2 linked regions of the Homo sapiens genome follow. The protein of the gene in region 2 purifies or fractionates together with the protein of the main gene of each other region. This does not show direct contact. Each region holds a gene or a part of one and is shown on either strand. Other genes may lie near its edges. The genes, in order: PTPN5 and ANKRD20A1.

Evidence for each region.
Region 1: the proteins of ANKRD20A1 (region 2) and PTPN5 purify together in Homo sapiens (affinity purification with mass spectrometry; one large-scale study listed by BioGRID and IntAct). This does not show direct contact.

What each region holds. Positions count from the first base shown.
Region 1 is NC_000011.10:18,743,225-18,747,040, forward strand, and holds part of PTPN5 (tyrosine-protein phosphatase non-receptor type 5), read right to left. Parts: exon of another isoform or gene 3,732-3,816; intron 976-3,731; coding exon 782-975; intron 206-781; coding exon 98-205; intron 1-97. UniProt on the Homo sapiens protein: May regulate the activity of several effector molecules involved in synaptic plasticity and neuronal cell survival, including MAPKs, Src family kinases and NMDA receptors.
Region 2 is NC_000009.12:67,857,792-67,862,045, reverse strand, and holds the start of ANKRD20A1 (ankyrin repeat domain-containing protein 20A1), read right to left. Parts: upstream 3,116-4,254; 5' UTR 2,620-3,115; coding exon 2,417-2,619; intron 1-2,416.

The sequences.
Region 1 (3,816 bases), on a different chromosome or scaffold from region 2:
CTGAACTCAGAGAAGCCCAATCTGGAGGTTGGGGAGGGTGGGACTAGAGGCCCCCAACAGATCCCTGCTACCCTAGGACTCCCCAAAGCTTACTTACCGTGGGTTCCAGCTGTTTCAGGAGCGTCAGCAAAGAGGAGACGAGGTTTGTGGCGTTCTGTGACCAGATGTGGCCATAACCGCTGAACCAGAGCACCCCACAGGCAAGCTGGGGCACAGGGGAGCAGGCTGAGTATGGAGCCGGCCCCCTTCCCCCGTGTTCCCCCAGCAGAGCTCACCTGCAGCCTCAACCTGGCCCTGCATGGAGGCTCCTGAACCTCTAAGGTCCAGACCGGGCAGCTGAGAGCAGGGCCCCGGTGCTGCGTGCCCGGGGAGGCCTCAGGACTCTCCTTGGAGAAAAGCTGACTGAAGGGAACCAAGAGAAAGCCCTTTCCAGAGAGGACCTCACAAATATGTACATCAAAAGAGTAGTCTCCTAGAAAGGCCTCCACAGACAGGAGTTCTCAGGAGAACCCTGTACGGCTGGGAGCTCAGGGGTCGGGGAGGCCCTGTGTTCTGGATTCTTAGGTTAGGGAGGCAGGGTGTGAGGTCTCAGATGCTGGTGCGGTAGCTCAGAATTCCAGCCTTCCCCTTATCCCAGCCTTGAGGGCTTGGAGCTCCTGAGGAACACCAGGGAGGCCCCTTATCCTCCTGCCTTCCAGGTGGCCATCCTGGGGAGGAAGTGGGAGGCTGGCCCTCCACCCACCCTCTCTCCAGACCCTTGTGAGGCCTGTGCCATCCTTACCAGGAACTGTGAGGCAGCGAACAGGCACAGGCTGCTCCTGACAGTGAGGGAGTGGCTCCCAGCGCCTCGAGGTGGTGGCTTCTGAGCTGGATCTGAGGGCGGCGAGGGAGGAGGGGGTGGCGGCATCTCTCTCTGTGAGTCCTGGAGCCCTTCAGCCTCGTCCAGTGCCTCCATCACTATCGGCTGGGGGAGACCTGTGGAAGATGGGCCATGCGGGCCGATGACTCCGGCCCTGTCCACAGGCAGGGCTCTGCCACCCCTTTTGGGGTGGCTGTGGCTGCCTCTCAATCTGGGATCAGTCAGCGTGGCTCCACTTCCAGCAGTCACCCTCGATTAGCAAAGCAATATTCACCTACCTTCGTCAGAAAGAGCTAAGTGTGGGTGGACAAATTATTTCTCTTTTATTTCTCCAGTAACAGAGTTAAAATGGCAGGAGGTTTTCCAGGGAGTTAATATAGTTGTATTTACGCAGCTTCATTCTTTTCCATTTCTTAAGGAAACAAAAAACAACCACCTCAAACTCAATTAAAAAAGAAGCAGCAGCAGGAAAAAAAAAAAGACATGGCATAACCAGGCCATGACCCTGAGCAACCCACCCATGCCTGCCCTGTGGATTTTTGTCTCATGTGGGCCATGCCCTAACTGGGGCTGGAGGCTAGACTCTTGACAAGACCACATCCATGTGCCCCCACCCCATCTCAAGACTCCCTGCACGATGAGAGGGGCTGGGGGCAGTTAGGGCGAAGTGCCGGAAAATCTTGGTGTAGCAGAATTGATACCAGATGTCTGGGGCCAGTTCTGGGTCTGTCCCTAGTGACTCCGGAGAGTCACTCCCTCTCTGGATCTTAAGTTTCCCCACCTGGAAGATGGGGTTTGGGTTCAACCCTAGTTTTTCTAACTGTGCTTTACAGAGCCCTAGTGTTTTCTCAGGTGCACAGGGGCTGAGGCCCTATGTCTGCCCCTCAAGGGCAGAAGCTCTGCCTGTCCCTGTACCATATACTGGATTTCTGCTAAGATTATTTCAAGGCAGAGTTCTGCTACTAAAGAGTCTGAATACCATTGGCTTAGATCTGAGCCCCTGGCTATAGCATGGGGATTCTAGCTGCGGCCACCTCAGTGAGTCCCAGATATTGGAGGTCTGCACCCAAACTCACAGGATTTAGTTTACTGTCAAGAAAAGAGGGACCAAAACATGGATGTATACAGTGTGACAGCTGGGAAGGGGCTGTCTACATATCATGCTGTATATGGGACAATGGACTTGGGTGACAACAGAACCATGTGGGCCCAGCATAGCCGTTTGTCCATGAGCTGCTCGCTCACTTGACAAACATTTACTGAGCACCTCCCATGGCCTGGATCAAGACTGTGGTGCAGAGAACCCGGTCCTGGAGCTGTGTTTGTAGCACAGGCTCCTGCTTCCCAGCCGGGCCCATTTCAGCTTCACTCCTTGCAGTTCCTCAGGTAAGCCCGCCCCCTATGCTTTGACATGCTGTTCTCTCTGCCTGGAACATCCCTCCAACACTCTGTTCCCCTCCCCTGCCTCCCACACACTTTGCCAAGGTAACACCTATTCATCTTGTAGACCTCAATCAGATGTCCCCTGAAGTAGGTCCTGCTCTATCACATACGAGCACCCCATGCCTCTCTTTCATATCATCATCATCATCAGCAGCAGCAGCAATATGCCTGGAATGTGCAGGGGCCCTTCTCTGTGTGCCTGGGTTAATTTTTTAATTCTTCACAGCACCCCTATGGAGTTGCTACTACTATTATCCCCATTTTACAGAAAAGGAAGATGAGGTGCAGAGAGGTTAACAGAGCTGCCCAAGGTTGCTTAGCTGGTAAGGGTAGAGGTGGCTTCAATCCAGGGCAGTCAGATAGGCTTCAGGCTACATTACACTTGCCATGGGTTGTAAAATAATTTTTGAATATCGTCTCCTCTACCCACCAAGAAGTTCCATGAAGGCAGAGTGGTATCAGCTTTGTTCATCCTCATGTCTACAGCATGTAGCGTAAGTCCTGGTGTGTAAGGCTACAATAAATGTTTACTAAATGAGTGAATGATGATGGGCAAAGGACACTCTTTTACTCAGTTTTTTTTGCCTGATAAATGGAGATAATAATACATACTTTGAAAAGCTGTTATAAATATAAATATATATATATATATATATATATATATATACATTTTTTTTTTTTTTGAGATGGAGTCTTGTTCTGTCACCCAGGCTGGAGTGCAGTGGTGCAATCTTGGCTCACTGCAACCTCCGCCTCCTGGGTTCAAACAATTTTCCTGCCTCAGCCTCCGGAGTAGCTGGTATCGCAGGTGTGTGCCACCATGCCTGGCTAATTTTTGTATTTTTAGTAGAGACAGGGTTTCACCATGTTGGCCAGGCTGGTCTTGAACACCTGACCTCAAGTGATCCACCCACCTTGGCCTCCCAAAGTGCTGGGATTACAGGTGTGAGCCACTGCGCCCGGCAGCTGTTATAAATATTTTAGATACTACAGACGAAACACCTAGCATAGTGTTCAGCATTTAGTAAGTACCCAATAAATGGCAGATTATAATGCTAACACATAATTAATTCTTGTCTTCAAAAGGCTCCAGTCTCGTGGCTAAAACAGACCAGTAAAGACATGTTTACAATACAGTGCATTAAGCAATAAATCTAAGTGCCAATGGAGTCTAAGAGGGTCACGAGAGGGTATCTACCTTTGTCCATGGAGGTTATAGTTCCTGACCACCTGAGCAGTCAGTTCAGATCCTGGGAGCAAGGTGAAAAAGGAAAAGCTACTGCTAAAAGAAGGATCACGTGGGAAGGCAAGAGTTGCTACTATTGATAAGCAGGGGGTTGATTTCTCAAGGGGCAAGGTCTCTGCCCACACACAGTTGACAGGTGATGCCAAATATGGAACGGTGGGAAGGGACAGACCCAGGGGTTACCTGGCTTCTGTGCCTTGGTTCTGCAGAGCACATACTTGGACCTTGGGCAATCCCTTCTTCTCCCTGGGTCTCAGTTTCCTTATCT
Region 2 (4,254 bases):
TATCGGGGCATCACGCAATCCATGAGACCTTACATTAAGTAGAATATGGTATACTCAGCAGGTCTAGGGCAGTTCTAGGCATGTAACTGAAACTTAAATACATTTTAGTTCTTAAAGGTACTATGGGGAAAGAGCACTGAAATAACAATAATGCATTTTTTAAACAAATTAATTCTTTGATTTTCAAACAACTTGAAACCAAAGGAAACTCATGATTCAAATGAATACATATGGCTCATTGTATTCAATATTTATACTTAGAAAATATATGCAAATAAGACTTTCCAATGATTAATATTAGTATTTAAGACTGATAAACTTTCGAAAGAGCAGTTAAAGGTTATCTTCTACTATTTTCTAACTTCAGAAATGCTTTTGTTTGAAAGGTGGGAGATAAAGTTTCAAGGAGATTAAGTCCCAATATTCCTATTTTAAATCTCTCAGCTTGTGCAGGTGGGGCAGGTAAACATGAAGTGTTTAAGGATGGACGGGTCCTGAGAGATGACAGAATATGTCTGCTACATAGCAGGTACTCAGGTTATGCTTGATCCATAAATGGAATGAAAGAATGGATAAATACAGTTGGGGAGTTCATTATTTTTAAATAAACTCCTATAAAGCAATATTTTTGCAATAGTAATTATTTATATGTGTTGTTTTATTTTTAAAGAACACAATTAAAATGAAATGATTATGTTTGCATAAATGGAATGAGTATATAAGCAAAACATATGTACATAATAAAATATATAGATAATAAAATCTGAAACAGATAAAAACATTCCCTTTTTACTTCTGAAGAGGCTAAAAGCTCAAAGAAGATAACAACACACACAATAATGATAAAGAATAGAAAGTGAGAAATTATTTTCATCAGCGCAAGATTCATATTCCTCTCTTCCCAAGGATTAGTCCATTAATAATAAACTTTTACTAGAAGTTTTGTACTCACTGCAGCAATCACAGATAAGAAAAAGGAAAAAAACTTTACTTAAAATACAAATGCTCAGAAATTACAAATTTTATATTTTGTACATATTTTTGCTAAAACAAGACCATAGTATGTTTGTGTATGTATAATTTAACTAATTTTTTTCTCCTTGCTAGCTATAACAAAATACATCTTTGCACATCAACGTACTTCTGTATCTACTGCCACCTTCAGTGGTCACATATTATTCCATCCTATGGATGCAACTGAAATTTATTTATAGGATCCATTCTATGGGTTCTCTTTAAAGTAAGTACTGTGAAAAATAAAGTGCATGTATCTTTATTTCCTAAGGGTATTTTAGTATAATGGAATTGGTGGGTAAAGGGCATACACATTTTTTAAATGTAGTACTTACCATTTTCAAATGAGTACTTTGAAAAGTAATCAGCAACTTTAAGCAGCAGTATAAAACATCCTCACAAATATTGTGGATAGAAAACTGTTTCATTCCTCTTTTAGTTTAAATTCTTATACCAGAAATGCGAAGGATTTTTTCCTATGTATATAAGTAACTTGTAGATCTGGAAAAAGGTACTTTGCCCACTTTTAGAGTGTTTGATGATTTGATTTGAAAGAATTCCCTGTAAAATGAAGAGGTACTTTTCATCTAATGTGTATATATAACTGATATATATAACATATGTGTTATATATGTATACATATCAGTAATATATATATATCTTATGATATATAATAAACAACATAGGCCAGGCGCGGTGGCTCACACCTGTAATCCCAGCGCTTTGGGAGGTGGAGGCGGGCAGATGACTTGAGGTCAGGAGTTCGAGACCAGCCTGGCCAACGTGGTGAAACTAAATATACAAAAATTAGCCAGGCATGCTGGCACCTGCCTGCAATCCCAGCTACTTGGGAGGCTGAAGTAGGAAAATTGCTTGAACCCGGCAGGCAGAGGTTGCAGTGAGCCAAGATTGTGCCATTGGACACCAGCCTGGGCAAAGAAGCGAGACTCTGACTCAAAAAAAAAAAAAAAAGAATATAATGAATTCCCTATAAAATGAAAACATACTTTTCATCTGAAAAAAAAATATATATATATAATATAGTAAATATTTTTCAAGTAAGCTCTCTTATCTGAGAACTTTTCGCCCACTGAAACAACTCACGGTTATTTTTGATAGGGGAACGAGTTCTCTCATTAGGCACCTCCTATAATGTATATAAACCATGTTTTAAACGTGTACGTTAAAAATAACAACGCTGTATATGCTTAACTTTGTGAGTTAAATCACTCAAATTCTCCAACTGCTCCAGCCAGGGAATTATGAGGGATGGAAAACAGCTGAGAGTCCGTTTGGCTCCGCCGCTCCGAGGGTGCCCGGCGCCCTGCAAGGCCCCGTCCCAGGGTCTGCGGGGAAGCCGGGCCTGGGGGCCCCCTCCCACCCCGGGCTGAGCCCCCGCTACCTGTGCTGCTTGTCCAGGGCGTCCAGGTCTCCGCTCCTGCGCGCCAGGCAGCGCTCCACCTCCGCGGCGTCGCCTTTGACAGCTGCCCTGTGGATCTTCTGCAGTTCGGAGTCCCGGATTCGGTATCCGGAACCCGTGTAGACGTGGTCTATGGAGCCCTGGGCCGTCTGGCCCCTGCGGCTCCCGAAGCCGAATAACTTCATATTGGTGACTTCTTCTCAGACCCCCAACCACCGGCTCTTGAGCGGGGGCAGCTCCCTGTCACCTTTTCACCACCCCCCTCCCCGACCCCGGCCGACCCAGCCCCAAATCCCCTATCCAACCCCAAAGCCCCGATCCAACCCCAACTCCGCTATTTCAAATCTATGGTCTACTCCACAATCCGCGATCCAGCCCGGTCCACCACAGCCTTCAGCAGCGACACTCGCAGCCTCCGACCTCTCAGACCGAGTGAGCCTCGCAAAGCCGTTGGGCGCGCGCCTGCACGGCAGTTGCTGCCGAGCTCCCAGAAGACGGTCCCTGGCGGAGCGCGCCTGCACCGCGGTTGCTGCCGGGCTCCCGGAAGACGCTCCCTGGCGGCGCGCGCCAGCAGGTGGGGCTGCAGCTCTGGGCGTGCGCCGATGGGCTCGCCGGTTCTCCTGGGATCGCCCGGGCGGCCCCAGGATCGCAGGCGCGCAGCCAGCCCGGCCTGAGAAAGAGGGCCTGTCTGGCCTTGCAGCCCGCCCCGCTCCTCCTCAGAAGGGAGATAGGGTGCTGGCAAGGGCACTCCGCGGCCACCTGAGTGGCTTCGCGGATTGGCTGAACGCTGAGGCTCTGGCCCTGAAGTCTGTGTGGCTAGTGTCAGGTAGCTGGAGAGGGATGGAGGCAGAGTCAGGGGCTGCTCCTTCCCCCACCCGCCCTCACTGCTGCCAGTGCCACACGCGCGGTTTGCAGCTGCAGATCTGGCACTGGCGCAGGATGGCGGAGCTTCCTTTGGATGGCCTCAGGGCCGCAGAGCGCACAGCCCACCTGGCCTCAAGGTCCGCTCCTCTTGGACATCTTTCTGGATCCTGGGCCCTGGCGCTGGGCACTCTGTGTCCACACGGATGAAACAGCGGCTGCTGGCGGGGCCGGTTGCCTGATTTTGCCGCCTGGGGGTCTGGCCTCAGGATCCACGCTACTGCGGGGCGGGCCTGGTCTGGAGTGTCCAGTCACTTGCTGCCGGTGCACCACGTCTAGACTGCAGCTGCGGCTCCGATGCCGGCGTGAGCTGGCGGGCCTGGTACCTGATGTCCTCAGGGTCAAGTGCATCGCCCTCCCACTTGAGAGGTTGCTCTGACTTGGCCTCCTCCAAGAACGCAGGGGCCGCCGGGACTGGCTCTTCGTGGTAACCGGGATGGTACCGAGCAGCAGGTTTTCACCCTGGTGCCACTGCTGTGCGGACTGCCTGACTTGGGCACCCAGGCACCCGCCCCAGGGTCCGCGCGGCAGGTGTGCAGGTAGGGTGAGTGGCGCGGAGGGTCGGGGGTTGCTCCGTCATCTCTGCCCGTGTGCAACTTGCAGTTTTGCAGTTTTCTGCAGCAGCCGAGGCGCTGGCGCGGGAAGGCGGAGCTCCCCTGGATGGCGTCAGGTTTGCGGGCACAGAGCACAGCCCACCAGGCCTGAAGGTCCGCTCAGGGGCCATAGTGGTTGAGTTCTCTGTGGAACTGGGATGGGGTGAACGGCCAGTTCCCGTCCTTTGGCCACCTGGCCAACTGCCAGACTTAACCGCTGCCGCCCAGGAATCTGTCTCTAGCGTAGCCACTACTTGGGTAGAAGTGGGGGTCGGGGTGGGGCGTGGAGCGTCACCGGTTGCCAGG